Linked DNA regions of Homo sapiens. The protein of the gene in region 1 purifies or fractionates together with the protein of each later gene. This does not show direct contact. Each region holds a gene or a part of one and is shown in the gene's direction. Other genes may lie near its edges.

Evidence for each region.
Region 2: the proteins of UPF3A (region 1) and CA1 purify together in Homo sapiens (affinity purification with mass spectrometry; 2 studies listed by BioGRID and IntAct, with this or other methods). This does not show direct contact.
Region 3: the proteins of UPF3A (region 1) and AGGF1 purify together in Homo sapiens (affinity purification with mass spectrometry; 2 studies listed by BioGRID and IntAct, with this or other methods). This does not show direct contact.
Region 4: the proteins of UPF3A (region 1) and HBD purify together in Homo sapiens (affinity purification with mass spectrometry; 2 studies listed by BioGRID and IntAct, with this or other methods). This does not show direct contact.

What each region holds. Positions count from the first base shown.
Region 1 is NC_000013.11:114,276,852-114,285,013, forward strand, and holds the start of UPF3A (regulator of nonsense transcripts 3A), read left to right. Parts: upstream 1-4,749; 5' UTR 4,750-4,788; coding exon 4,789-4,995; intron 4,996-5,059; exon of another isoform or gene 5,060-5,169; coding exon 5,170-5,276; intron 5,277-5,543; exon of another isoform or gene 5,544-5,801; intron 5,802-5,985; coding exon 5,986-6,092; intron 6,093-7,242; exon of another isoform or gene 7,243-7,507; intron 7,508-8,162. UniProt on the Homo sapiens protein: Involved in nonsense-mediated decay (NMD) of mRNAs containing premature stop codons by associating with the nuclear exon junction complex (EJC) and serving as link between the EJC core and NMD machinery.
Region 2 is NC_000008.11:85,332,773-85,340,281, reverse strand, and holds part of CA1 (carbonic anhydrase 1), read left to right. Parts: intron 1-1,832; coding exon 1,833-2,030; intron 2,031-3,218; coding exon 3,219-3,337; intron 3,338-6,661; coding exon 6,662-6,757; intron 6,758-7,509. UniProt on the Homo sapiens protein: Catalyzes the reversible hydration of carbon dioxide. Can hydrate cyanamide to urea.
Region 3 is NC_000005.10:77,033,013-77,040,521, forward strand, and holds part of AGGF1 (angiogenic factor with G patch and FHA domains 1), read left to right. Parts: intron 1-1,405; coding exon 1,406-1,508; intron 1,509-2,528; coding exon 2,529-2,731; intron 2,732-3,543; coding exon 3,544-3,708; intron 3,709-6,518; coding exon 6,519-6,707; intron 6,708-7,509. UniProt on the Homo sapiens protein: Promotes angiogenesis and the proliferation of endothelial cells. Able to bind to endothelial cells and promote cell proliferation, suggesting that it may act in an autocrine fashion.
Region 4 is NC_000011.10:5,232,214-5,239,218, reverse strand, and holds HBD (hemoglobin subunit delta), read left to right. Parts: upstream 1-4,735; 5' UTR 4,736-4,785; coding exon 4,786-4,877; intron 4,878-5,005; coding exon 5,006-5,228; intron 5,229-6,126; coding exon 6,127-6,255; 3' UTR 6,256-6,381; downstream 6,382-7,005. UniProt on the Homo sapiens protein: Involved in oxygen transport from the lung to the various peripheral tissues.

The sequences.
Region 1 (8,162 bases):
TGATGAGGTGACAGAGTTAGAAAACAGTTGATTCTGCTAATTTGTTGTCCAGCTTAATGGTGGTTTTGGTGGAAGAACCAATTAATCCCTGAAGCTTCCTGCCCTGCCGTTTTCTGTGACGTCACTGCTGTCTTAAAACTATAACTAAATATTAGTCATATTAAAAAAAAACTATAGGCTGGGCGCAGTGGCTCACGCCTGTAATCCTAGCACTATGGGAGGCTGAGGCGGGCGGATCACGAGGTCAGGAGATTGAGACCCTCCTGGCTAACACGGTGAAACCCCGTCTCTACTAAAAATACAAAAAATTAGCCGGGTGTAGTGGTGGGTGCCTGTAGTCCCAGCTACTCAGGAGGCTGAGACAGGAGAATGGTGTGAACCTGGGAGGCGGAGCCTGCAGTGAGCTGAGATTGCGCCACTGCACTCCAGCCTGGGTGACAGAGCGAGACTCCATCTCAAAAAAAAAAAAAAACAAAAAACACAACTATAGCTAAATAATAGTCATATAAAATAAATTGCAGTACTTATCAAATTTCAGTTTAACTTTTGAAAGTCATAGTATTTAAGGTAACAAACTCAGCTATTAACACATTTTATGATGCTTTAAAAAGCTCAAAGAATTGAACAGCTATTGGTGCTAAGTTATAATTGTGTTCTATAAAATAAATGTGATTCACTATTCTTTGTAATTGCTACCTCCTGGTATGTATAAGATAAAGAAATTGAATTTTACCTATTTTCTCACATACTAATTTGGTGACGTATCCTTTTAACTGTTGGCAAATGTTATAGGCTCTCTTGGCCTGTTTTTTATTCCATTATTTTAACATCTTTTGCAGTTTTCTCACATAAGATTGAAAACTGAATCTATGTGAAATAAGCAGGTGTCTATCAGTAATGATATTTAAAATATGTCACAGCTGGATTCCCTGTTTTGTAGGAGCATCTGAAATCAGCCATAGCGGAACAGATGGAAATGCCCCATTTGTTGGGGTCAAGAAGGAAAAGTTCTTACATAGTTTTACACATTTGGCTGGTGATTGATTTTGTGAAAAGATATGTTAAAATTTGTTTGTTTTTTGAGACGGAGGCTCACTGTGTTGCCCTGGCTGGAGTGCAGTGGCGTGATATCGGCTCACTGCAACCTCTGCCTCTCGGACTCAAGCAATCCTCCTGTCTCAGCCTACTGAGTAGCTGGGATTACAGGCTCCTGCCACCACACCCAGCTAATTTTTGTATTTTTAGTAGAGACGGGGTTTCACCATGTTGGCCAGGCTGATCTCAAACTCCTGACGTCAAATGATGCACCTGCTTCAGCTTCTGAAAGTGCTGGGATTACAGGCTTGAGCCACAGCGCCCGGTCTGAAAAGATACGTTTAAAAATTTTATTTTAAAAAGGTGCTACAAGACAATTCTACTAAATCTCTAATCTTTAAACTTTTTTTTAACCTCTTCACTGAGATTAGGAAAAGAATCTTGATATGACTCCTAGGTGATAACTGTATAAACAGACAACACCCCCACTCTTCATCATTCTAATAAAGAGAGAGGATTATATGCTTCATTTGTTTAAAGTCCTTTATTCAAACTCTCCTACTACTAACATCAGAGGACATGTTACTCTACTTTTTCATAAAAACAAACTTGTGTAGTTATTAGAAAGCATCTATTCACGGCATCATTAACAAATTAGGCATTATACAGAAGTGAATTTTCCAGGCAACTGAGGTGCTGCCTTAAACACAAAACTTTTTATCTTAACCTATCTGAAGTGTATTCCCTGTATTTCTACCTTCTGAAGCAGAACAATGATAGCATTCATTTCTTGAGGATCCCCAGGTGTTAACTCTAGTAAATCTTTTAAGGAGGGCTTTGTTCCCCTTCATACTGATGAGGGTCTAGCACTGTTGTATGGTGCATTGAAGACTAGCATTCAGACCCCATCCTGTCTCCATTCATCATGGTGAAAGTCAGGTATCGCGCTGGAAGTTAATGCAGTAATACATTTAGAGACCATGAGTTACCCCACGCTAAATTAGACTCAAACTAATGCGTTTTCATGTTTTCATTTTTAAATGGCTTTTCTGTCTCTCTGTCAGGCATCATGTATGCCTCCCCTGTCTTGAGTTGGGGCTAAAAAATCAAGTGACTGAACTTAAGGTAATTATTTTTAAAACAACTAAAATGAAAGTATTATATTAATAAAGTGCTGAGTTTTTTACATTTATTTTTCCTGCCAGAGCAAAAAAAAAAAAAAAACCATTTAGTTTTCTCATTGATCACTGTTAGAATTTTTCTGGTTTCTGTAAGTGAATGTCAAAAGGTTCAGACACTTGAGTAAGCTGTAATTCGGATCAGCAGCAGTGTTAACACCAGTGTTTAGGCCTCTGAGAGTAAAAACAATGTGTCGTACTGCCAAGTATTGTTCCTGTTACTACCCAATTCTTCAGTATCTCAGGACACAGTTTATCCTAAAAAGGTGTCCTGTTTGCTAACTACAGTGGCTGTGTTATCGTTAAAGGAAATACTGGGAAGTGTTACGGTCACCAGCTTCAAGTCACTGTCATCTACCAATGAGATAGGGGCTACCAAGTAAAATGTAGCCCAGGGCCACATTCACAGATGGAAGTGTTCAGTTAAGCAAAAGTAAAGTTACATACTAAAAGCCCACATGAAGAAGGATTTGGAGATATTTCTTCCTGCTTTGCTTTGGCTGTAAAGTTCTGTACATGTATCAAACAGAGCATTTCAACAGGCTGGCTAATGTGTAGGAAGCTAGCTTTTCTTTGTGATATAATTTGTCATGTAAAATCATAAGCTATTTTACAAGTGTATTTCATTCACTGTATCTTAAAATTCATATGGTTTTATTTAAAGATAATTTCATCAAACAGCTGAATTCTAAAATCCTACCTTTTTTTCAAAATCATTTTTCAGAACTTTGCAATAACAGGAAGTAAAGAATCAGAAGGGTGTTAAAAAATTGACTTGGGGGGAAAAACATTTGGACATTTTGCTGGCTAGGTTTACGAAATATACACATCCAGCAAACATGTGAGTCCCTTTAGGGTACAGTGCAGTGAAGGGAGAAGTGGAAATACTCAAGGTTCTGGGGAAGGTCAAATGAAGGGTCCCTCACATTGGCTGAGGCCAACCTGGCTTCAGAGGTGTGCAGAGGCACCAGGCCGAGAACAGGGCTTTGCAGTGGTGAGGGCAAAACATGAACACAAGAAATACCCTAAGTTACTGACCTGGTTGTGCCTGGTGACAGATGGGACCAGCTCTTTTCTCCATTTGGTAATTTTGGAAAATTTGGCAGAGTTAATAAAGAAATCCCCTTGGTGCAAGATTGCTACAATAAGAATCTATTATAGATGGCAGATGTGAAGTTCACAGTCCTTTTTATTATCCTAACCTAGTAACATGACTAGAGGTAAAATTAAATATTGAGTTAGATGATTGTTTAATATTTTAAAACCAGAGGGAAGACATACAAATAGATTGAGAGCAGTTTCTTTCTAAAGATAATCAGAATATATCTCCTATATTTTAAACACTGCAGGAACAGTCAAAATTTTAAAATAAATGGTTTCCACATTTTTTTATCCCCATCTCTCCCCCTGACTATATAGTAAAATATTTTATTTGGCAACCACGTTTTCCTACTTTTAATCACACATCATCAGAGCTTTTCATCAGCCTAACTAGTCTTCCTACTCACTGAGTTGTGACGAAAGCCTGGTCTAGGCACTTTTACCACGGCCATGTTTTTGTTAAGATCCCTGCAGACTGTGAACTATGAAAACCAGCCCCTGGCCCCGCTTGTGGGTGCTGCAGAGCCGCGTGTGAACTGCTCCTAGGAAACCGCGTCTCTGGGCAGGGTGGCTCTCGGGCCGTGGATCCGCCTAAAAGCTTTTCTGCCAGTGACGCCCTTGGTCTCTGGATGTGTTCACGCCTCAGTGATTTTACTCTCTGGTTTCTTGTGTGTGCTTGAGATTCTTGAGAGAAAGCGTGCTGCAGATGAAAAATGCAGCCTACATGAAAAAGAGAAGGGGAAAGCCATTTTAAAATAACTTCCATGTAAGTTACTGTAATCAAAGTGCTGCTGCCTGTGTGTTCATAAAAAAATATGTGCAAGGGCCCGGAGCGGTGGCTCATGCCTGTAATCCCAGCACTTTGGGAGGCCGAGGTGGGCGGATCACTTGAGGTCAGGAGTTACCGAGACCATCCTGGCCAACAAGGTGAAACCCCGTCTCTACTTTAAAAAAACAAAAAAATTAGCCAGGGGTGGTGGCGCGTGCCTGTAGGTCCCAGCCACTCAGGAGGCTGAGGCAGAGGCTGCAGTGAGCCGAGATCGCGCCACTGCACTCCGGTCTGGGCGACAGAGCGAGACTGTCTCCAAAAAAATTAAGAATTCAAATGTGAACCCGGCTTTCATGGCGCCCCGGCCACGGAGAGCCTGGGGGAGTGGGATAAAAACGGTGCTGGGATGGGAGGGCGGCTTGTCCGCGAACTCCTCCCACCACGCCCGGACCAAAGCCGCCGGCGCCCCGCTTCCGGGGCCGCCCTAAACCGCGGCCGCCGCTCCCTGAGGGGCCGCCTGACCCGGCGGAAAGCCAGGCTGTGTGGCCGGAGGTCACCACCCCGACCCCGACTAGTCCCGCAGCGCCTGACCCCTTCGTGGGCGGCCCCGACCGCCGCGGCTCGAGGAGGGGCGGGGCTGGGGCGGCCGAGCTCTCGCGAGGTTTCGTCGGGGGCTGGCGGCTGCGGCTCGGCGGAGAGTGCGGCATGCGCTCGGAAAAGGAGGGGGCCGGAGGCCTTCGGGCGGCCGTTGCCGCGCGGGGCCCGAGCGGGAGGGAGAAGCTGTCGGCCCTAGAAGTGCAGTTCCACCGCGACTCGCAGCAGCAGGAGGCTGAGACGCCGCCAACTTCGTCCTCCGGTTGCGGGGGCGGTGCGGGCAAACCTCGCGAGGAGAAGAGGACGGCCCTGAGCAAGGTGGGGACGGGGGCGGGGCGCGCAAACCTCGCGAGGAGAGGACGGCCCTGAGTGGAGGGAGGGGAGGGAGGGGAGGGAGGGGCGGGGGCCGGGCCTCCCAGCGCGGTACGCGGTGCCTTTTGAGCTCCTTGTCCACGCTCCGCCCCGGTGGGAACGGCCGCGCGCTCCCCGCAGGTGGTCATCCGCCGCCTGCCTCCGGGCCTCACCAAGGAGCAGCTGGAGGAGCAGCTGCGCCCGCTGCCAGCACACGACTACTTCGAGTTCTTCGCCGCCGACCTGAGGTGAGGCCCGCCCCGAGGGGAGGAAGAGAGGGCGGAACCCAGAGCTCGGCGGCGGTGGCCGTCTCGTTGCCTTACGTTCCTTACCCTGATTTCTCCTATATGGGAGTCGTGTGAGCTTTTTGAATAAATACATTTCAGTAAAACGTGTCCGTTCCGTCAAAGAAAAATACCACCAACAAAGAAACACAGATGTGGTTTACATGAAAAATGCGGATGATTTTCAGACGGCTAACGCTTAGGAAAGCGGGTGCCTTTGAAAGGACCAGCGTTGCCCGCCCGGCGCCTCCCGGGCTTCCCTGCTCGTCCGCGGACGGGGCGCTGCGGGGCCGGGGGGCGCCGGCTCTTCCTGTGGCCTCCACGCTGGTGCCGCAGCCAGTGCGGTTTTAAATACCGGAGAAGGTCCCCAAGTCAGGAGAGTCTCTCGGCGCCACGGGTTCCTCTGGGAGTGCGCCCTGGCCTTGCCTTAGGGTTTCAGCCTCGGAGGACCGGTTCTGGGCAGTGGAGAAGGGACCTGAGTTCTGCCTTGTAAAGTTAACGTTTTGCGTTTGTTTTTGCTAAAGAATATCCAAGTTGTTACAATTAACTGAGATGATTTGGCACAAAAGTTTTATCTAAAGTAGTTTGTTGTGCCCAGAAAAGGAAAAAGAGGCTAAATTAATGGACTATTGTATTTTTCACTGACCATTTTCACTGTTATCTCTTATTTCAGTCTTTATCCTCATCTCTACTCAAGAGCATACATTAATTTTAGGAATCCTGATGACATCCTTCTTTTTAGAGATCGTTTTGATGGATATATCTTCCTTGACAGCAAAGGTTGGATTATTGGTTTTTAAAAATCTATTATAATCTGTAGGTATACTAATGAAGTATTGCTAGAATATTCGTGCTTTTTAAATTATTATTATTTTTTGAGACAGGGTCTTGCTCTGTTGCCCAGGCTGGAGTGCAGCAGCCGCAATCACGGCTCACTGCAGCCTCACACTGCGGCTCAAGCAATCCTCCAGCCTCCTAGGTAGCAGGGACCACAGGCGTGTGCCACCATGATCGGCTGATTTAAAAAAAAAATTGTGTAGAGACGGGGGTCTCACTGTGTTGCCCAGGCTGGTCTTGAACTCCTGGCTTCAAGTGATCCTCCCACCTCAGCCTCCCAAAGTGCTGGGATTACAGGCGTGAGCCACAGCATCCGGTCTATTTGTGCATTTTAATTAAAAAGTTCTCAGACTAAAATAAGTTTATAAATTTTGATTATGTTACTGTAATTATGTGCAGATATTAAAAATTGAAATTATTTAATTTTATTATTTAATCCAAAAAAATTCCAGAAATTCTGTGTAATAGTGACAGCCTATTTATGTATTATCATCAGAGAATGAAGGTTTTCATGAGTGAGTTTGTTGCATGAGAGAACTTGATCTTTTTAGGTTCTAAAGCTAAACTATTTTACCTGATAGGAATTTTCCAAAATGTACACTGACTTCTATCTTCCTAAACAGCATCCTTCATGACTGTACCATTTATGATAATGTCACCAGGAAGTCACTGCTGTTAAACAGCTTTGCCTGCGGAGACAGCAGTCTTCAACTCTACTCTCAATAGTTCCCTTATCAGTACTTCTAGGGTTCTGCTTTCATCTTTTTCCTTCTCTTCTCCTGTCAGGCTGTCTGCTGTTGTGTTCCTGGCTGTCAAGTTTGTATACCTTTCACAGCAAGTTGTTTTCTGCCCTCCCCTCCCCAGCCACCCTCTTCCGACTCCACGTGTTTTGACACTGATGAGTGTTTTCTTTTTCTCCAATGAGGGGTAAGGACTAGAAAGATTGTTAAAAAAATAAGCATTAGCCAAGCTAGTTCCTGTGACTAGAAGCAAATGTGATGCTTGAACTGACCTTTGTGTTCATTGCTCATTTATTCAGTAACTTACTGAGTTTCCCTTTTTCACTTAAAAAATATTGGTGGGCCGGGCACAGTGGCTCACACCTGTAATCCCAGCACTTTAGGAGGCCAAGGCGGGTGGATCACGAGGTCAGGAGTTCGAGACCGGCCTGAGCAACAACGTGAAACCCTGTCTCTACTAAAAATACAAAAATTAGCCAGGCATGGTGGCAGGCGCCTGTAGTCCCAGCTACTCGGAAGACTGAGACAGGAGAATTGCTTGAACCTGGGAGGCGGAGGTTGCAGTGAGCCGAGATCATGCCACTGCATCCCAGCCGGGGCGACGGAGCAAAAAAATATGTATGTGTATGTACGTGTATGTATATGTGTGTGTGTGTGTAAAATATGTGTAACATGGCCAGGTGTGATGGCTCACTCCTGTAATCCCAGCACTTTGGGAGGCCGAGGAATGTAGATCAGTTGAGGTCAGGGGTTCGAGACCAGCCTGGCCAAGATGGTGAAACCCTGTCTCTACTAAAAAAAAAAAAAAATTAGCCAGGCATCATGAGGCATGCCTGTAATCTCAGATACTTGGGAGACTGAGGCATGAGACTCACTTGAACCCGGGAGGCAGAGGTTGCAGTGAGCCAAGATCGTGTTACTACACTGTAGCCTTGGTGACAGAGTGAGACTCTGTCTCAAAAAAAAAAAAAGTCACAAAATTTATACCATACTGTTTTCCACAGTGACTGCGCCATTTTAGGTTCCCACCTGTAGTGAGCAAGGGGCCAGTCGTCCTTGTTTCCGGTTATCTTTGTTGTCGTTGTTTTGTTTTTTAGAGATGGGGTCTCACTATGTTGCCCAGGCTGGTGTCAAACTCCTGAGCTCAAGCGATTCCCCCCACATTGGCCTCCCAAAGTGCTGGGCTACAGGCGTGAGCCGCTGCCCTGCCGTTGTTTTTATGGTCTCTGGCCTAAGCCTGTGCTTTTGATGTCATATGCAACCCATTGCCAAA
Region 2 (7,509 bases), on another chromosome or scaffold:
TCTTAAGGGTCCTAGGATTTTCAGAATGTTAAATGAGTGTTGGCTTCAACTTAAAGTCAACAGTTGCATTTGACCCTAACAAAAGAGTCAGGCTGTTTTTAAAACTTTGAAACCATGCATTGACTTCTCCTCTCTAGCTATGAAAGTCCTAGATGCTATCTCCTTCCAAAAGAAGGCTGTTTTGTCTGCTCTGAAAATCTGTTGTTTAGTGTAGTCACCTTCATTGGTTATCTTAGCTAGATCTTCTGTATAACTGTCTGCGGCTTCTGTATCAGCACTTGCCACATCACCTCACACTTTCATGTTATGGAGATGGCATCTTTCTTTAAATCTCATAAACCAACCTCGACTAGCTTCTAACTTTTCTTCTGCAGCTTCTTTGCCTTTCTCAGGCTTCACAGAATTAAAAAGAGCTATAGCCTTGCTCTCATTAGGATTCGGCTTAAGGGAATGTGGTTGTTGGTTTTTGATCTTCTATCCAGACTATGCAAACTTTCTCCATATCAGCAATAATGCTGCTTTGCTTTCTTATCATTTGTGTGTGCACTGGTGTAGCACCTTTAATTTTCTCCAAGAACTTTTCTTTTGCATTCACGGCTTGACTAACTGGCACAAGAGGTCTAGTTTTTGGCCTGTCTCAACTCTTGACATGCCTTCTTCACTGAGCTTAATCATTTCTAGCTTTTGATTTAAAGTGAGAAACATGTGACTCTTCCTCTCACTGGAGTACTTACAGGTCATTGTAGGGTTATTAAACAGATTAATTTCAATATTCTTGTCTCAGGGAATAGGCAGACTTACAGAGAGGGAGATAGATGGGGAATAGCCAGTCAGTAAAGTAGTTAAAACACACACAACATTTACAGATTAAGTTCATCATCTTACTTGGACATGGTTTATGGTGCCACAACACTATTATAATAGTAACATCAAAGATCTCCATGATAGATATATGAACAATTAAAAAGTTTAAAATATTGTGAGAATTACCAAAATGTGACACAGAGACGTGAAATAAACACATGCTGTTGAAAATATGCCCCTAATAAGCTTGCTTGATGCAAGGTTGCTACAAATCTTCAGTTTGTAAAAAATGCAATATCTGCAAAGAACAATAAAGTGAAGCGCAATAAAATGAGTTAAGCTTGTATTAGAAATCTATTGCTAATAATAAAATATGTATGGTCTGATTCTATAGACTATGAGTATAGATCTATATTAGTAGTATTGACAAATACACTATTTTATAGTACAATATAGAAAAGGGGCCGGGTGCAGTGGCTCATGCTTGTAATCCCAGCACTTTGGGAGACCAAGGCAGGTGGATCACTTGAAGTCAGGAGTTCGAGACAAGCCTGGACAACATGATGAAACCCCATCTCTACTAAAAATACAAAAAAATTGGCCAGGCATGGTGGCATGCTCCTGTAATCCCAGCTACTTGGGAAGCTCACGCATGAGAATCGCTTGAGCTTGGGAGGCAGAGGTTGCAGTGAGCCAAGAGCGCATCACTGCACTCCAGCCTGGGTGACAGAGCAAGACTCTGTCAAAAAAAAAAAAAAAAAGAGAGAGAAAGAAAGAGAGAGAGAGAAAGAAGGAAAGAAAGAAAGAAAGAAAGAAAGAAAGAAAGAAAGAAAGAAAGAAAGAAAAAGAAGGAAAGAAAGAAAGAAAAGGGACATCTTCAAACACAGAATTTCTATTAATCTTAAGAGAATATCATTTAATACACTGAAATAAACCCTAATCTAATAAGCAAACAGGTAACTATACTCCTAAAACTTGGAATCAAGCATTTGATAAGACATTGATTTTACACGTGTTTGTCCTGGTAGGTCCTGAACAATGGAGCAAGCTGTATCCCATTGCCAATGGAAATAACCAGTCCCCTGTTGATATTAAAACCAGTGAAACCAAACATGACACCTCTCTGAAACCTATTAGTGTCTCCTACAACCCAGCCACAGCCAAAGAAATTATCAATGTGGGGCATTCCTTCCATGTAAATTTTGAGGACAACGATAACCGATCAGGTGAGCTGAAAGACCCTTCTGATATTTTTTTCTTACAGTCTACTGGGAAAATTTAAAAAATAGTGCTCGAGAAATATGACACCCATTCTAAGTCTTTTGTGCTTGTGTGCAGCATTGCTGTAATCTAGTGAGGCATCTTGGACTTCTGGAAAACGCCCAGGTGGTAAAGACAATTTTTGGAACTCCCAGCTCTCTATTTTCAGTCTTGCTTCTCAAAGTCACCATCACGTCTCTTCTCGTCATTCCAGTATCTGTATGCTCACTTCACTGTCTCTGAATAAACAGCATTTATCCAGAAAGGTCTAGTGAACCAGTCATTACAAATATAACAACTAAAAAGAAAAATATTTTCTAATTGGGATGAGTATGAATGAGCACAGTAGAAAAGAAAAACAAAGCAGTGACTGAATTATCCTTATACTCCAGAATCTAGAACAAATTTTGCTACAGAGTTAGCTTTTCATGAAGGTTTATTGAATATTTTATTAAATGACAATTCCATAAAACAGTTCTACTGATTTAAAATGCTAAATTTGTTTATGAGTTTCTGAGGCCTAAATTTTAGGCACCTTGGGACTATGTCCATTATTAATATTAGATTAGGTCTGGTATTATATGCATTTAACTAATATTATCATTGGATAGGCTCTCCAAACAAAGTTTTATAAGTGCCCCACTGCCCCACTGGTACTCTCTCTTGGTCCCTGGCCAGGGATTCTCAACAAAGCTGTCAAGATATACTTTTGTGTCTTCATCAGTTACACAGTAGGTGATGAATGGTTCATTACTCAAAATAAACTACTAAAGATTTTTGATGCATACTGTCTTTGTTGAAAGAATGAAGGAATAAACTTGCAAATTAAAGGAGATTCAAGGACAGCCCTGTAATGATATAATTCACTCACATTGCAATATGCTTTCTAGGAGTTAGAAATAGGTAAAATTGTAGCTCGTGTGGCTGGGAAATGTGTATAATTCATGGAATAGCTCATCAATGCCACAGTCAGGGGTGCACCATACATATGACTGTCATCCTCATGGATGTGGGGGAAAACAAGATGAAAGTTTAGGCACTAATGTTTGTTTTCACTTCTACTCAATACAATTTAGTGTTGGTTTATATTAAATGCAAAGATAAGCTAGAGTTTGTGGAGCATCAGGCTAACAATCGGTTCCCTTTTCTTCCAGTGCTGAAAGGTGGTCCTTTCTCTGACAGCTACAGGCTCTTTCAGTTCCATTTTCACTGGGGCAGTACAAATGAGCATGGTTCAGAACATACAGTGGATGGAGTCAAATATTCTGCCGAGGTAATGTAATTTAGTAAGTGAGAGATAATTACCCTGAGAGTACTCCCAGAAGCAGCTTCTCCCTTCTTTTCTAAGACAACATCATAATGACTCCAAAGGAATGGGTATTCCAGTAAGGAACTCCCAGTTTCCATTAAAATCAAGCACAGACACATAATGTTTGGCAAGAGAGAGAAAATTTTCATGTGGAAAGAGGCAGCTAAACTCCTGAGCCCAAGATTCACCTTTCCCTGAGAATGCCTCAAAAGCTGTTACCTTGATATCAAAGCTAGCTTCAAAGGATGACACTGCTCCTCCTTTAAAGCTGTAACCCCAAATGGAACACACCATCATTTCCTCTTTATTTAAACGTTCAAGTTTGGATACACCAGCAGTATCGTTGTGGCCAAGCCAGGACAATTCAATGAGACTCTACTAAGAGCTCGAATTTAACCACAGCAATGGTCACAGAACAGCATACACCTAGATGAGGGTCTAACCTTCCCTGGCTCTTAACCTGCTCTCACATGGAAGTTTGTGACTTATTTCAGGACATTATTATCTGTATATCCAAAGAAAAATGGAGACATGTACACCAAACTCTCAGCAGAGGGTCTGGGAGATTAAAATGTGAGAAATTTTGCTCTTTATTTTAGGTGTATGAATTATATAATACATGTGTACCCATATATGCAGGTTGACTTTTTAATTTTACTTTCATCAAATGAATTCTATAATATATATAATTTTGCAACCTGCTTTTTTTCTATTTACCCACTTATCATGACAATTTTTAAAAATCAGAAGATTGAATTCCACCTTTTTTACTGTCAGCATAGTATTTCATTTGGGTGAATGCATCAGAATTTATTTAACTGCCTTCTATTGATGAACAATCACAACATATGATTTTTGTTATATTGGTTTCTTTTGCTTTTATTAAAAAATGCTTCAGTGAATATATCTGTACATATATCTTGTGCACTAGTGAAAGTAATTATGTACGATAGATTTTTCCAGGGCAGACTGCTACGTTACAAAGTATATGTATCTTCTATTCTGATAGAACATCAGCAGATTGTATACAAATAAAACTTGCTTTACCTTGTGTTGTAAAGCATGACTAACACCTTTCAATGCTGCAGAAATCTGTTAATTGGGTTTTCCCCTCCATAAAATTGAAGGTAGATTAAAATTAAATGGACTAAGAGCCTAAATTAGTATTATCTTTTTGGAAGGATAGTTGGTAGTATCCAAGAAAACTAAATTAGTGACTCTCTCATCTAAATTGAGAAAAATCAATATAATCCATGCTAGATATTGAGAGACACTTAGCCACAAAGTTTAGCATATGATTAAATTCAGTTCAATAAACCTTCTTGAGATACCTATAAGACAATAGGTTTGAGAGGCAATGCAGCCTGTTGCTTAAGAATGCAAGTACCCAGCTGACTGCCAGGGTTTGAATCAAAGCTCGACCACTTACTAGCTGTACAAATTCAAACAAATCACTCTACGCTCCAGTATTCCTATATAGAGAATCTAGATAATATAGCATTAGTATCTATCTTAATAATTGTTGACAGCATGAAAAGAGTTAACCCATACAGAGCACACTTAGACCAGCACCTTTCATGTTGCATGTGCTGAATAATGTTACTTAACATTTCCGTAGAGACACAAGCAAACATTTTTCAAGCAGGGAAGTATAGGCATAAATTATTGTGATTAAATAAATATAGTAGCAAATGGCAGTATGACTATTCACAAAGAAGCATAGGAATACAGATGTAAGAATAATTAATTACAAGTAGGGACAGAATCTACACTGGCATGGTCAGAGGAAATTGCAATAAGTGATCCCTCTTAATATACTGTCTTAATCATTCTTTTTTCATTCAACAAATATTCACTGGACACCTACAATATGCCAGATACTGTCTTTATTTTTTGTCGTTATTTATTTATTTATTTTTGAGAAAGAGTCTTGCTCTGTTGCCCAGGCTGGAGTCCAGAGGCACGATCTCGGCTTACTGCAACCTCCTCCTCTCAGGTTCAAGTGATTCTCCTGCCCCGGCCTCCTGAGTAGCTGGGATTACAGGCATGTGCCACCACACCCGGCTAATTTTGTATTTTTAGTAGAGATGGAGTTTTACCACGTTGGTCAGGCTGATCTCGAACTCCTGACCTCGTGATCCGCCCGCCTCGGCCTCCCAAAGTGCTGGAATTACAGGCGTGAGATACTGTTTTTAAAAAGTACTTGCTATCAGAACTTGCATTTGATAGGGAAAATAAAAATTTCAGAGGAAGGAAGGCAGGAAAGAAGGGAGGGAGGAAGGAAGGAAGGGAGGGAGGAAGGAAGGGAGGGAGGGAGGAAGGGAGGGAGGAGAATAGGAAGAAGAGAGATTAAATAAGTGATATGGATAGAACTGTTTTGATTTGTGGTGGTTACTTTATATTGGATGATCAGGAAAGAATTATTTAAGGAGTGGCATTTGAGTTCAACCCTAATTCAAGACAAAAGTCTGCCATTTGAAGATCATGGGGAAGGAAATTCCAGAGAAAATTAGAAGCTAATGCAAAGGCTCAAAGTTGTGAACATGTGACGAAGTATAACCTGTAAGATGTGAATGTTGATAGGTGGGGAAAGCAAGAAATGAATGATAGTTGTTGTACTTATTGATTGAGCATTTAAAAACCTTATCCTAAGAAGGTAAAATTAAGCAGGTTTGGCAAGAAGGAAATCTAGAGTTCTATTTTGGCCAGATTAAGTCTGAAACATCTATTAGACATCCATGTAGAGATATCAAGAATATATCAAGAATACATATATACATACTTGGATGTACAAATCTAGAGTTTGCAGAGACGTTAAGCTGGAGATATTTATTTGAGAGATGTTTGGAAAGGGCACGAACGTGCCTGAAAGAATCTGTTCTTGGCCAAGACTCCCAGGAACTCCAGGAACCCTTTCTCATAAATTTACTATAAAGTACCTCATGTGAGAGAAAATTACTTCAATTATTTTCCCAAAAACTAGTTAGTCATATTTCCTGATCTTTTCAAAACAAAGAGAGATACATTTAAAGGAGTAATATTAAATAACAATATCGTAGGAAAGGACATTTTGCTTACTGGTTCCAGGTTTTGTAATCTCTACCTGGCACACAGATAACCCTTCCTACGAGTGAGAATGTAACTCTTCTAATCCACTGGATAAAGGTTCACATAAGTTTTATGTATCTAAGCCAAGATACATCATCATATGGTAACAAGTTAACTTATAACTTATCTTTTTTCATCACACTGGTATAAATAATTAATTAACCATAGTATCATTTTTAGCTTCACGTAGCTCACTGGAATTCTGCAAAGTACTCCAGCCTTGCTGAAGCTGCCTCAAAGGCTGATGGTTTGGCAGTTATTGGTGTTTTGATGAAGGTGAGTTACAGATAATTACACAGCTCTGCTTCCACTGTCTTACCAATTAGACCTCAAAATAGAAGGAAATAAGGCAACATATATTTTAGAATTTCTTATTTTAAAGTTTCCATTTAACCGATGACTACAGGTGAACAAATAGTTCCCTAGTATTTTATTGCTTGGTTTTATCTCTGCTTTTCCCTCTTAAAGAGAGAAATGAGTTTCAGGTGGAGGTGAGATAGAAATGTGTTCACAGGGAAAAAGGAATTTCTATTTTCCAGCTCTTCCAAATTCCCTTTCCTCTAAATTTCCTACATCATAGATTCTGAAATTTATTAATTTAATGTCTCATCAGGAAAGAAATATTATTAAATATTAATAAGGAAACCTGAAATCATAGATTCAGAAATTTATCAATTTAATATCTCATTAGGAAAGAAATAGTAAGAGAATTTTTTCTTACAAAGAATATTCAATTGATTTTTTAAATGGGAGATGTTGCTCAAATCCTCTATAGAAGAATCCCTGAAAAGTTCTATGAAAAAGTTATTATTAAATTGGGTATGCCCGGGTAACCAAGTAACTCTTGAAATTATAGCACTTCTACTTAACCTTTACTGAGCACTTACAATATGCCAAATACTGTAGTAATGAAAACTAATATAACAGACCAAAATAAGAGATTTGTTTTTGTGTCAGTTTTGATAAATTACTAGATTTTGCCCTGTATAACTTTGAACATATTGCCAATAATTAAGTTTAAATCAAAC
Region 3 (7,509 bases), on another chromosome or scaffold:
CAGAAGGTAATTGCCTGAGAGGATCATCTGTCCTCCACATGCCTCCATTTTAGTCCAATATTAAAAATTTAATCTCATAGAAAGTCTTGACTCTACTTTGAATAGTGATAACTCCTTACTCTCCTAGTCAGCCTCCCTTGGTTGGGGAGAGGGTGGATTCGATTAACTGTCATTCCAAATTACTGAATGTGTTTTATTTGGAGCAGTTAAAAAGTTTTGCTTGAGAATGATAACTGGAGAACCATAATATGTATAGGGTTTGTACAAGACCCCAAAATAGCCTTGTGCAAATTACTTTGTCTTGTCTGATATTTTATGTGTAAAATTGGGGTTAGGACAACGAATATTTCAGGTGGTTTTGTGAATTAATGAGATGTTATCTAAAGCATCAAGTATAGTGCCCAGCATGTAGTAGATACTAAGTAATCTAATTCATAGTGATAGGGACAGTAGCCAGAGCCAGGATTTAGGGCAAGGCAATCAGGCTCCTAGGGCGAGGAATTTAATGGGGCACTAATTCCCAGCGATGAACTCTGTACTTGCATGAATCAGAGGAGCGCCTCAGATTTTTCACGATCAGTGTCTTGCTTCCCTCACTGTAGTTCCTGCCCTAGTATTAGCAACAGATCAGTTTTATCACCTTTCTCTGTTTAAGCTTTATGTATCATTAAATAAATATTTAAAAGCTTGTTTTTTAGTTGGTTTCTTGTGTGTAGTAGACATTGTCTCACATTGAGGTCCTCTCAGGCTGAGGTGTATTGACTGAGGCAGCGTATTGACCGAGGCAGCATGTTACTTGCTTTTGGGCACTTCCACACACTTGTTTCTCTCTGTCCTATGTAGTAGCATCCTTTTAAGGGTATTTTAGTGTGTGAAGTACATGGAGGACAGATGCCCCTCTCAGGCCGTCACCTTCCCTGTTCTCTTCTGCTACAGTTACTTAATTATAGGACTACTGTTTAATGAAAAAATGTATTAAAGCTTGTAAGTGGCATTAACATATTCAGGTGGATAGTTAATTCCCAGTGGAGAATACCAAATGAGTATTAGATAATCCAGTAGGGATGAGAATTTGTAAATTTTGAATTTTTGAATTCTTTAGAACTGACTTTAAAATGTTAACATAAAAGCATTCTTATTTGTTAGAAATAAAGGACCTTGTTCACAAAGTCTCATTATTTAGTTCGATTTTTGGAGGAGATATTTGGACATTTAGTAAGAGAGATTAGGAATAAAAATGCCTTTTAAATGTATAAAGTAAAATAATAATTTTAGCTTTTCTGAAAGGGAAACTTGCTGCTCTTGACATTTCTCTAAAACAATTATTTGTAACGGTAGGAGACTGGTATATATATTATTAGATTGTTACATGATTTCTTTTTCCTAAAGCCTTGTTTTCTCTCAGGTGGAAGAACTCAGTAAAATACTCCAACGTGGGAGAAATGAAGATAATAAAAAGTCTGATGTAGAAGTACAAACAGAGAACCATGCTCCTTGGTCAATCTCAGGTATTTAGCTTATAGTGAGGATATGCTAACACTGTTACATTCAAATCATGCTAATGTTGCGTTTTCTTTTAATTTAAAATAAACAAAGATCAAGGTAAATGAGAATTGTTAATACTGTTGACGTCTCTCCATATGATAATGGTATTTTCGGATAATCAATTTGTTCTTCTGGAGGAAAAAGTAGAAATGTATTGTCATTCCTGTGATTTCTATAATGTTGCTAATGTTTTCAGTGGCACACTCACTGAGTAATTTTTGGCAGGCAGTTAGCCATCTACTTCCATATCTGCCTTCCTTGTGACCAGGGGCATTTGTTTTCTTGTTGATGTGTTCTAATTAGAATTATGTATAGTATCAGTCTCTCACCCTTGTGGGAATGGTGAGCCCACCACCATGGCCTTATGAATGGCATTATGTTATAAGGCAAAATAGCTGAGATACTGAGTTTTAATATATATGTGTCACAAGAAGAAATCATCTTTCCTATTAAGTTTTGCCTTGCTTCAGTCAGGACATAATTTTTGGCTAAATTGCTAAACATAGCAATAGTGCTAACTTTTCTTATCTGCATGATACGTTTTAAAAAGTCTGCATGGGGAGAGAAATTTGCCAAAAAATAAATCAATCCCTAATTCCTTGCCTTTATTTCATTATCAGTTGATAAGCAACAGTATTAAGGTATCCAGTTAGAAGTTAAGAGTTAAGTTTTTTAAATAGAACACAACCTATCTACAGATTTTTATTTTACTCTTGCTGTAGAAAATGTAACCAACTTACCTTTTTTTTTTCTTTTTAACTGACAGCTAGGGTCTTGAAGGAGACATTAGAATCAAAGATACACACTTCTGCAGATTTATCTGTGCCATCTGTTTTAATCTTTTAAAATTTGTACAGTTGTAAAAATCATGATTTATTTGAAGTATGTGCTTTTTGTGTTTAAATGCCAGTGTTTTGTAGTTAAGTCCTTTTTATATACATTATTCTAATATGATACGATTTCACTTCATTTTTTTGCTACAGATTATTTTTATCAGACGTACTACAATGACGTTAGTCTTCCAAATAAAGTGACTGAACTGTCAGATCAACAAGATCAAGCTATCGAAACTTCTATTTTGAATTCTAAAGACCATTTACAAGTAGAAAATGATGCTTACCCTGGTACCGATAGAACAGAAAATGTTAAATATAGACAAGTGGACCATTTTGCCTCAAATTCACAGGTAATAAAATGCTAAACATGAAACTGTTGATGCCCAAGAACCTGTCCTTCTTTGTTGTTATTATGTGGAAAGATAGACTTCTTTGGTCCGTCACAGCATATATAAGGGTTATAAACATTCTTATGTGTAATTATGCAAAGAATGTTGTAGTTTTTCCAAAACCAGAATTAGAACTTCTTCATATATGTAGTGGTTTTCCTACTACATTGTGTTCCAAAATTTTGTGATCTACATAAACTAAAACAAAATTTGTCCAGATATTTTGACTGAACAAAAGAACTGTGGACAACAATACCACATTTACACCTAAAAAAATTTTAATGTTCCTTTATGTCAGATACCCTGCCACTATTCAAATTTCCCTGAATCTATAAATTTGTTTTTATAGTTTGTTTGAATTAGGATCCCTATTGTGTTTGATATATCTCATTTAATCTACAGTTTTCTCCTTCATTTGTCTTTTTGAAATTTTTTTTCCAATTGAACATATAATCATTGAAGAACCTAGATCTTTGTCTTAGCCAATATTTCAGGGTCTGTATTTTGTGGATGGCTTCCCTGTGGCATCATACATTTATTCTCGAATAATTGTCACTCATTTTTAGTGCCTTCAAAACTGGGTCAAAGTTGAAGTTACTGACACACTAGTAAATGTTGTAATAAGTGGTTCAAGTCATAATTGATAGTCATGCTTTTCCTTTGTAGAAATTGAAGTCGTTACTTAAACATAGTCTCAGGTCTTGAGTTCAGCCAACTTTTTAATTGATATACAGAAGCTTTTGTCTTATTTGGCATGACTATATCTTTTATAGGAGCCAGCATCTGCATTAGCAACAGAAGATACCTCCTTAGAAGGCTCATCATTAGCTGAAAGTTTGAGAGCTGCAGCAGAAGCGGCTGTATCACAGACTGGATTTAGTTATGATGAAAATACTGGACTGTATTTTGACCACAGCACTGGTTTCTATTATGATTCTGTAAGTATCTCAGACCTTTTTGTTTTGTTTTGTTTTTGAGACAGTCTCCCTCTGTCACCCCGGCTGGAGTGCAGTGGAGTGATCTCAGCTCACTGCAACTTTCACCCCCCAGGTTCAAGTGATTCTTATGTCTCAGCATCCCAAGTAGCTGGGATTACAGGCATGCACCACCACACCCTGCTAATTTTTTGTATTTTTAGTAGAGGCAGGGTTTCGCCATGTCGGCCAGGCTGGTCTCGAATTACATCTCAGACCTTTTAATACTGTATGATACATACTCAGTGCCTGATATCAAATATTAAACCCTAAGCCGAAGTAAGAAAGCAAAAAGCTGCATTTAAAATTATATTTGACTCAAAACTATTTGACAGAAGAATTCTAAAATAGCTTATGATGCTACACTTCTAAGTTTTTAAAATAAGGTTAAGGTTAAAATAAATTTTATTGTGATTATTATAGACAATGTTTTGGAGAAGTCTTTATGTATAAAAATAACAGACAAAAATACTGGAGCTTTTGTTAATAAAAGCAGATAGTTAACTACATCGTAAATATTTTAGAACCTAAACCAGTATTTTTTTCATAGAATTAATAGAGAAGTGAGGTTAATTTTAGGCTTGGAATGAGAATTTTAAAAATTATATCAAATACTTTATGAATTCATTTTAGGCCACATAAGGAGACTTCTTTCTTGAATTCTTAGTAGTATGTTTATTATTAGCCAGTGTTTTATATCCTGTGCCTTTTAACTATTTCACTTTAAACATTCAGTCTGTTGGCTAGGCATGGTGGCTCACTCCTTGTAATCCTAGCACTTTAGGAGGCTGAGGCAGGTGGATTGCTTGAGTCGAGTGCAAGACCAGCCTGGGCAACACAGTGAGACTCTTTCTATAAAAAATTTTAAAAGTCAGCTGGATGTAGTGGCTCACCCTCTAGTCCCAGCTACTCAGGAGGCTGATGTGGGAGCGTCGCTTGAGCTGGGAAGATGGAGGCTGCAGTGAGCCATGATTGCACCACTGCCCTCCAGACTAGGTGACAGAGTGAGACCCTGTCTCAAAAAACAAGCAAACAAAAATCAATCTGTTAGCAATGAGAACTAGGGAATTAATATGGGATCTAAAATATAATGGACCACTGACTAGGATAGAACCAGAAAATAAAGTTCTTGATTTATAATACAGTGTTATAGCTGTTGAAGTCTAATAATTATATTTCGTTGAAGATTTGATGACAATGATAGAACTCAGTCACATACCTCAAACTCAAGAATCTAGTAATGTAATCTGGTTTTCTGAGGAATTATAGAATGTGGTACACAAAAGTGGAGTTGACGTTCATCATTCCTGTTACTGGAACTATTGTTATCTAGAGAACATAAGATAATACTAAATATCTCAATTAACATAAGAGGTGTCATTAGTTTGTCAATCTGCATATGGTAAACTGTAAGTCCTTTGTAAAGAGAGGGTTTTCTTTCATGGGGGTTGCTAATTGACAATGCTAATTAATAACCAGGAAATTAATGTTTAAACACTTATCCAAAGGGAGTAGTTATTTAGTTTCTAGGAAAACAATAGTTTCAAGTAGACATTAGTCTTTGTCAATCTTCTGCCTGTCTTTCTGTATCTTTTCTCTTGACATCAGTTGTTTTGTAAATGGTTAGTACGTTCTGCAGGTTATATTTCTGAGTAAATTAGGAACTTCATTGTGTTGCCATTTTCATTGTGCTAATATTTTAATAAATTTTTTTTATATTTTGAAAATGTCTATATTTTGGACTGATAAACAGATTTAAAAGGTTTGAATTATAAAAGTTCCATTATTACTAGAAATAAAGATTGGAAAGCCTCCACTCAGTTTCTTAGTTAAGAGAAAGATGGTGAGAAATCTAAATATTTTTTGTAAGAGATCTGCAAAATGCATGGATTAAAGACAATAAATTGCAAGTGTCAATAGTTAGAAAAATAAATTATTCTTTTTCAGGAAGTTTTAGTTGCTCAATCTCAGTACATTAAAGATGTTTCCGGGTCTGGTCTGCATGGATTTAGGATGTAAATAAAATATAGACTGTTCAATTAAATTTGGTTTTAGAGTACTGGCCAGTATATCATAAATATAGGTGATTACCTAATTTTATCTTTCTGGTTTTTAAATCTGTAATTTGCCAAATTCATTTATGCATGGTTGCTTGTAAGTCTTATTTACTATAGAACTGATTAATTAGTGGAGACAGTTTATTGATTGCATTTTATAGAATGTTATTTTTTGGTATGCATGAACTTTATTTTCAAAATTTTCTTCTCTAATTTTAAGTTATGAACATCAAAAGACAAATCTTTGTTTTATGACATTGAGAGGAGGGTTTAGGGGTTTATACTGCCACACCATTATTGTGCAGTCATTAAGAATCAGGAGTCTAGAATTGCGCTCATATGGTCAGCTTTTTCTTATGCTTGCTTTAGTTTTCATGCCTTTAAAAGTATTATCAATTTTTTTAATGTATTAAGTGGAACCATATGAAATTGCTGTTTCTTATAAGTTAAAAGTGGTCAAGTATTGACAATTTTATATGATTAAATTTAATATTTAGATTTACTTGTTTCTCACACTAGGAAAATTAGATCAGTTATTGAATGGTAAAGTATTTTGGAAGATTAAAGCATTTTTTATTGTTATCTTTAATTCATTGTCTTCTGAAAATACTATAGTTGTTCAAAGAAATATTTACCACATTTGAATGTATTTGGCATTTTCGTTAAGTTTATTTTATCTTACATGAATAGAATTTATTTTTTTCTTGACTTTCAAAGGAAAATCAACTCTATTATGATCCTTCCACTGGAATTTATTACTATTGTGATGTGGAAAGTGGTCGTTATCAGTTTCATTCTCGAGTAGATTTGCAACCTTATCCGACTTCTAGCACAAAACAAAGTAAAGATAAAAAATTGAAGAAGAAAAGAAAAGATCCAGATTCTTCTGCAACAAATGAGGAAAAGGTAATGTCTTTACAATTTTAAAAATTGACATAATGGTGATAACATGATAATTAAGACAAAATTTTTTATGAAACTGACAATCATTCAATAACTCTGCATTTCAAACATACCCATTAAGATAACCTAGGAAAGTTTAGATGGAGCAAACATGGACTTTTTCATAAACTCTGTCACTAGAAATAGAAAGCATTTCTTAAAATTTGAAGGAGATAGATTAAGGTCAGATAAAATATCTCGTATATAGTTTGGAAGAAGAATTCAGATCCTCAGTTGATAAGTTGATGTCAATGCACAGTTCATAATAAAAGATAAACACAGTTTATAGGTAGACATAGATACAGGTTCAACTTTCTTAGTTATGTGGAGCAATTTTTTACTTACTAGGACAATTTTTTTTTTTTTTTTTGAGACAGAGTTTCACTCTTGTTGCCCGGGCTGGAATGCAATGGCGTGATCTCAGCTCACCGCAACCTCCGCCTCCCAGGTTCAAGTGATTCTCCTGCCTCAGCCTCCCGAGTAGCTGGGATTACAGGCATGCACCAACACGTCTGGCTAATTTTTTTGTAATCTTAGTAGAGACGGGGCTTCTCCATGTGGTCAGGCTCGTCTCGAACTCCTGACCTCAGCTGATCCTCCTGCCTCTGCCTCCCAAAGTGCTGAGATTACAGGCATGAGCCACCGCACCCGGCCAGGAAAATATTAAAAAAAAAAAAAAAATCCATTGCTGACAACTGTGGAGTGAGATAACATATTTATTAGGATTAATAGTTTAAATGGCCTGCAAGACAATGGTTAAGAAAGC
Region 4 (7,005 bases), on another chromosome or scaffold:
GTCATGCATTTATTCACATCAGAATTTCATACACTAATAAGACATAGTATCAGAAGTCAGTTTATTAGTTATATCAGTTAGGGTCCATCAAGGAAAGGACAAACCATTATCAGTTACTCAACCTAGAATTAAATACAGCTCTTAATAGTTAATTATCCTTGTATTGGAAGAGCTAAAATATCAAATAAAGGACAGTGCAGAAATCTAGATGTTAGTAACATCAGAAAACCTCTTCCGCCATTAGGCCTAGAAGGGCAGAAGGAGAAAATGTTTATACCACCAGAGTCCAGAACCAGAGCCCATAACCAGAGGTCCACTGGATTCAGTGAGCTAGTGGGTGCTCCTTGGAGAGAGCCAGAACTGTCTAATGGGGGCATCAAAGTATCAGCCATAAAAAACCATAAAAAAGACTGTCTGCTGTAGGAGATCCGTTCAGAGAGAGAGAGAGACCAGAAATAATCTTGCTTATGCTTTCCCTCAGCCAGTGTTTACCATTGCAGAATGTACATGCGACTGAAAGGGTGAGGAAACCTGGGAAATGTCAGTTCCTCAAATACAGAGAACACTGAGGGAAGGATGAGAAATAAATGTGAAAGCAGACATGAATGGTAATTGACAGAAGGAAACTAGGATGTGTCCAGTAAATGAATAATTACAGTGTGCAGTGATTATTGCAATGATTAATGTATTGATAAGATAATATGAAAACACAGAATTCAAACAGCAGTGAACTGAGATTAGAATTGTGGAGAGCACTGGCATTTAAGAATGTCACACTTAGAATGTGTCTCTAGGCATTGTTCTGTGCATATATCATCTCAATATTCATTATCTGAAAATTATGAATTAGGTACAAAGCTCAAATAATTTATTTTTTCAGGTTAGCAAGAACTTTTTTTTTTTTTTTCTGAGATAGAGCATTGCTATGGTTGCCCAGGCTGGAGTGCAATGGCATGATCCAGGCTCACTGCAACATCTGCCTCCCAGGTTCAAGCGATTCTCCTGCCTCAGCCTCCCAAGTAGCTGGCACTACAGGCATGTGCCACCACCATGCCTGGCTAATTTTCTATTTTTAGTAGATAGGGGGTTTCACCATGTTGGTCAGGCTGATCTCGAACTCCTAACATCAGGTGATCCACCCTCCTCGGCCTCTGAAAGTGCTGGGATCACAGGCGTGAGCCACCACACCCAGCCAAGAATGTGAATTTTGTAGAAGGATATAACCCATATTTCTCTGACCCTAGAGTCCTTAGTATACCTCCCATACCATGTGGCTCATCCTCCTTACATACATTTCCCATCTTTCACCCTACCTTTTCCTTTTTGTTTCAGCTTTTCACTGTGTCAAAATCTAGAACCTTATCTCCTACCTGCTCTGAAACCAACAGCAAGTTGACTTCCATTCTAACCCACATTGGCATTACACTAATTAAAATCGATACTGAGTTCTAAAATCATCGGGGATTTTGGGGACTATGTCTTACTTCATACTTCCTTGAGATTTCACATTAAATGTTGGTGTTCATTAAAGGTCCTTCATTTAACTTTGTATTCATCACACTCTTGGATTCACAGTTATATCTAAACTCTTAAATACAGCCTGTATAATCCCAATTCCCAACTCTGATTTCTAACCTCTGACCTCCAACCTCAGTGCCAAACCCATATATCAAACAATGTACTGGGCTTATTTATATAGATGTCCTATAGGCACCTCAGACTCAGCATGGGTATTTCACTTGTTATACTAAAACTGTTTCTCTTCCAGTGTTTTCCATTTTAGTCATTAGATAGCTACTTGCCCATTCACCAAGGTCACAGATTAAAATCATTTCCCTACCTCTAATCAACAGTTCGATTCTGCTTCAATTTGTCCCTATCTATTAATCACCACTCTTACTGCCCAGTCAGGTCCTCATTGTTTCCTGAACAAGAGTAGATGCTATTCTTTCCACTTTTAGACCTTATCCTGGCTGGATGCGGTGGCTCAGGCTTGTAAACCCAGCACTTTGGGAGGCCAAGGCAGGCAGATCACTTGAGGTCAGGAGTTCAAGACCAGCCTGACCAACATGGTGAAACCCCATCTCTACTAAAAATACAAAATCAGCCGGGCGTGTGGTGCATGCCTGCAGTCCCAGCTATTCAGGTGGCTGAGGCAGGAGAATTGCTTGAACCCAGGAGGCAGAGGTTGCGGTGAGCCTAGATTGCACCATTGCACTCTAGCTTGGGCAATAGGGATGAAACTCCATCTCAGAAGAGAAAAGAAAAAAAGACCTTATTCTGTTATACAAATCCTCTCAATGCAATCCATATAGAATAAACATGTAACCAGATCTCCCAATGTGTAAAATCATTTCAGGTAGAACAGAATTAAAGTGAAAAGCCAAGTCTTTGGAATTAACAGACAAAGATCAAATAACAGTCCTCATGGCCTTAAGAATTTACCTAACATTTTTTTTAGAATCAATTTTCTTATATATGAATTGGAAACATAATTCCTCCCTCACAAACACATTCTAAGATTTTAAGGAGATATTGATGAAGTACATCATCTGTCATTTTTAACAGGTAGTGGTAGTGATTCACACAGCACATTATGATCTGTTCTTGTATGTTCTGTTCCATTCTGTATTCTTGACCTGGTTGTATTCTTTCTGAGCTCCAGATCCACATATCTAAGTACATCTTTTTGCATTTTACAAGAGTGCATACAATACAATGTATCCAAGACTGTATTTCTGATTTTATCGTACCACTAAACTCACAAATGTGGCCCTATTCTTGTGTTCACGACTGACATCACCGTCATGGTCCAAGTCTGATAATAGAAATGGCATTGTCACTTTCTTCCCTACTGCAACAGAAGCCCAGCTATTTGTCTCCCATTTTCTCTACTTCTAAAATACATTTCTTCACTAAGTGAGAATAATCTTTTAAAGACACAAATCAAACCATGCCACCACCTTTCTTGAATTATTCAATATCTTTCGTTGGCTTCCAGGTTACAGAAAAATAACTTGTAACAAAGTTTAAAGGTCATTCATGGCTCCTCTCTACCCTATTTTATAACATTTCCCCTTGTGATCAGAATCTCAGGCACATCATCCATCTTTCTATATACAAATAAAGTCATATAGTTTGAACTCACCTCTGGTTACTTTTAATCAACCAAATGCTGTAAAATGCATTTGTATCGCTACGTGTTAAGCAGTAGTTGATTCTTTTCATTTCTGTGTAATATTCTATTCTTTGACTATACCGTAATTTATCAATTCTACTGTTGGTAAGCATTTAAGTGGCTACCGGTTTGAGGTTTTTATGATTATTGCTGTCATAAGCATTTCTATACATGTCTTTGGATACACACATGCATGTGTTTCTGAATATCTAAAAATGTAATTGCTAGGTAATAGACTTATCAAGCATCCAGCATTTGTGGATACTATTAAAGGTTTTCCAAAGGGGTTATACTATTGTACAGTGTCACCAACAGAGTTTGAGTTTCTATTGATCCATATCACCACCAAAATTTGAACTGTCAGTCTTATCTCTTCTCTTGTCTCTTTTTTCCTCTTTTTTTTCCTTCCCTTCCCCTCTCTTCGTTTCTTTTCTCTCCTCTTCTCTTCTTTCCTCTCTTCCCTTCCCTTTCTCTTTCTCTTCCCTATCCCTTCTCCTCTCCTCTCCCCTCCTTTTTTCTCCTCTCCTCTCCATTATTTATTTTTCCTTCTTCTCCTCCATCCCTTCCATCCTCTCTCTTCCCCTCTTCCTTCCTTCCTTTCTCCATTTCTTCCTCCTCTTTCCTTCAATCCTTCCTTTTGGATATGCTCATGGGTGTGTATTTGTCTGCCATTGTGGCATTATTTGAATTCAGAAAAGAGTGAAAAACTACTGGGATCTTCATTCCTGGGTCTAATTCCACATTTTTTTTTAAGAACACATCTGTAAAAATGTTCTGTACTAGCATATTCCCAGGAACTTCGTTAAATTTAATCTGGCTGAATATGGTAAATCTACTTTTCACTTTGCATTCTTTCTTTAGTCATACCATAATTTTAAACATTCAAAATATTTGTATATAATATTTGATTTTATCTGTCATTAAAATGTTAACCTTAAAATTCATGTTTCCAGAACCTATTTCAATAACTGGTAAATAAACACTATTCATTTTTTAAATATTCTTTTAATGGATATTTATTTCAATATAATAAAAAATTAGAGTTTTATTATAGGAAGAATTTACCAAAAGAAGGAGGAAGCAAGCAAGTTTAAACTGCAGCAATAGATTTGTCCATTCCAACCTCTCAAAATTCCCTTGGAGACAAAAATCTCTAGAGGCAAAGAAGAACTTTATATTGAGTCAACTTGTTAAAACATCTGCTTTTAGATAAGTTTTCTTAGTATAAAGTGACAGAAACAAATAAGTTAAACTCTAAGATACATTCCACTATATTAGCCTAAAACACTTCTGCAAAAATGAAACTAGGAGGATATTTTTAGAAACAACTGCTGAAAGAGATGCGGTGGGGAGATATGTAGAGGAGAACAGGGTTTCTGAGTCAAGACACACATGACAGAACAGCCAATCTCAGGGCAAGTTAAGGGAATAGTGGAATGAAGGTTCATTTTTCATTCTCACAAACTAATGAAACCCTGCTTATCTTAAACCAACCTGCTCACTGGAGCAGGGAGGACAGGACCAGCATAAAAGGCAGGGCAGAGTCGACTGTTGCTTACACTTTCTTCTGACATAACAGTGTTCACTAGCAACCTCAAACAGACACCATGGTGCATCTGACTCCTGAGGAGAAGACTGCTGTCAATGCCCTGTGGGGCAAAGTGAACGTGGATGCAGTTGGTGGTGAGGCCCTGGGCAGGTTGGTATCAAGGTTATAAGAGAGGCTCAAGGAGGCAAATGGAAACTGGGCATGTGTAGACAGAGAAGACTCTTGGGTTTCTGATAGGCACTGACTCTCTGTCCCTTGGGCTGTTTTCCTACCCTCAGATTACTGGTGGTCTACCCTTGGACCCAGAGGTTCTTTGAGTCCTTTGGGGATCTGTCCTCTCCTGATGCTGTTATGGGCAACCCTAAGGTGAAGGCTCATGGCAAGAAGGTGCTAGGTGCCTTTAGTGATGGCCTGGCTCACCTGGACAACCTCAAGGGCACTTTTTCTCAGCTGAGTGAGCTGCACTGTGACAAGCTGCACGTGGATCCTGAGAACTTCAGGGTGAGTCCAGGAGATGCTTCACTTTTCTCTTTTTACTTTCTAATCTTACATTTTGGTTCTTTTACCTACCTGCTCTTCTCCCACATTTTTGTCATTTTACTATATTTTATCATTTAATGCTTCTAAAATTTTGTTAATTTTTTATTTAAATATTCTGCATTTTTTCCTTCCTCACAATCTTGCTATTTTAAATTATTTAATATCCTGTCTTTCTCTCCCAACCCCCTCCCTTCATTTTTCCTTCTCTAACAACAACTCAAATTATGCATACCAGCTCTCACCTGCTAATTCTGCACTTAGAATAATCCTTTTGTCTCTCCACATGGGTATGGGAGAGGCTCCAACTCAAAGATGAGAGGCATAGAATACTGTTTTAGAGGCTATAAATCATTTTACAATAAGGAATAATTGGAATTTTATAAATTCTGTAGTAAATGGAATGGAAAGGAAAGTGAATATTTGATTATGAAAGACTAGGCAGTTACACTGGAGGTGGGGCAGAAGTCGTTGCTAGGAGACAGCCCATCATCACACTGATTAATCAATTAATTTGTATCTATTAATCTGTTTATAGTAATTAATTTGTATATGCTATATACACATACAAAATTAAAACTAATTTGGAATTAATTTGTATATAGTATTATACAGCATATATAGCATATATGTACATATATAGACTACATGCTAGTTAAGTACATAGAGGATGTGTGTGTATAGATATATGTTATATGTATGCATTCATATATGTACTTATTTATGCTGATGGGAATAACCTGGGGATCAGTTTTGTCTAAGATTTGGGCAGAAAAAAATGGGTGTTGGCTCAGTTTCTCAGAAGCCAGTCTTTATTTCTCTGTTAACCATATGCATGTATCTGCCTACCTCTTCTCCGCAGCTCTTGGGCAATGTGCTGGTGTGTGTGCTGGCCCGCAACTTTGGCAAGGAATTCACCCCACAAATGCAGGCTGCCTATCAGAAGGTGGTGGCTGGTGTGGCTAATGCCCTGGCTCACAAGTACCATTGAGATCCTGGACTGTTTCCTGATAACCATAAGAAGACCCTATTTCCCTAGATTCTATTTTCTGAACTTGGGAACACAATGCCTACTTCAAGGGTATGGCTTCTGCCTAATAAAGAATGTTCAGCTCAACTTCCTGATTAATTTCACTTATTTCATTTTTTTGTCCAGGTGTGTAAGAAGGTTCCTGAGGCTCTACAGATAGGGAGCACTTGTTTATTTTACAAAGAGTACATGGGAAAAGAGAAAAGCAAGGGAACCGTACAAGGCATTAATGGGTGACACTTCTACCTCCAAAGAGCAGAAATTATCAAGAACTCTTGATACAAAGATAATACTGGCACTGCAGAGGTTCTAGGGAAGACCTCAACCCTAAGACATAGCCTCAAGGGTAATGCTACGATTAAACTCCAACAATTACTGAGAAAATAATGTGCTCAATTAAAGGCATAATGATTACTCAAGACAATGTTATGTTGTCTTTCTTCCTCCTTCCTTTGCCTGCACATTGTAGCCCATAATACTATACCCCATCAAGTGTTCCTGCTCCAAGAAATAGCTTCCTCCTCTTACTTGCCCCAGAACATCTCTGTAAAGAATTTCCTCTTATCTTCCCATATTTCAGTCAAGATTCATTGCTCACGTATTACTTGTGACCTCTCTTGACCCCAGCCACAATAAACTTCTCTATACTACCCAAAAAATCTTTCCAAACCCTCCCCCACACCATTTTTTATATTTTTATATTTTTCTTAT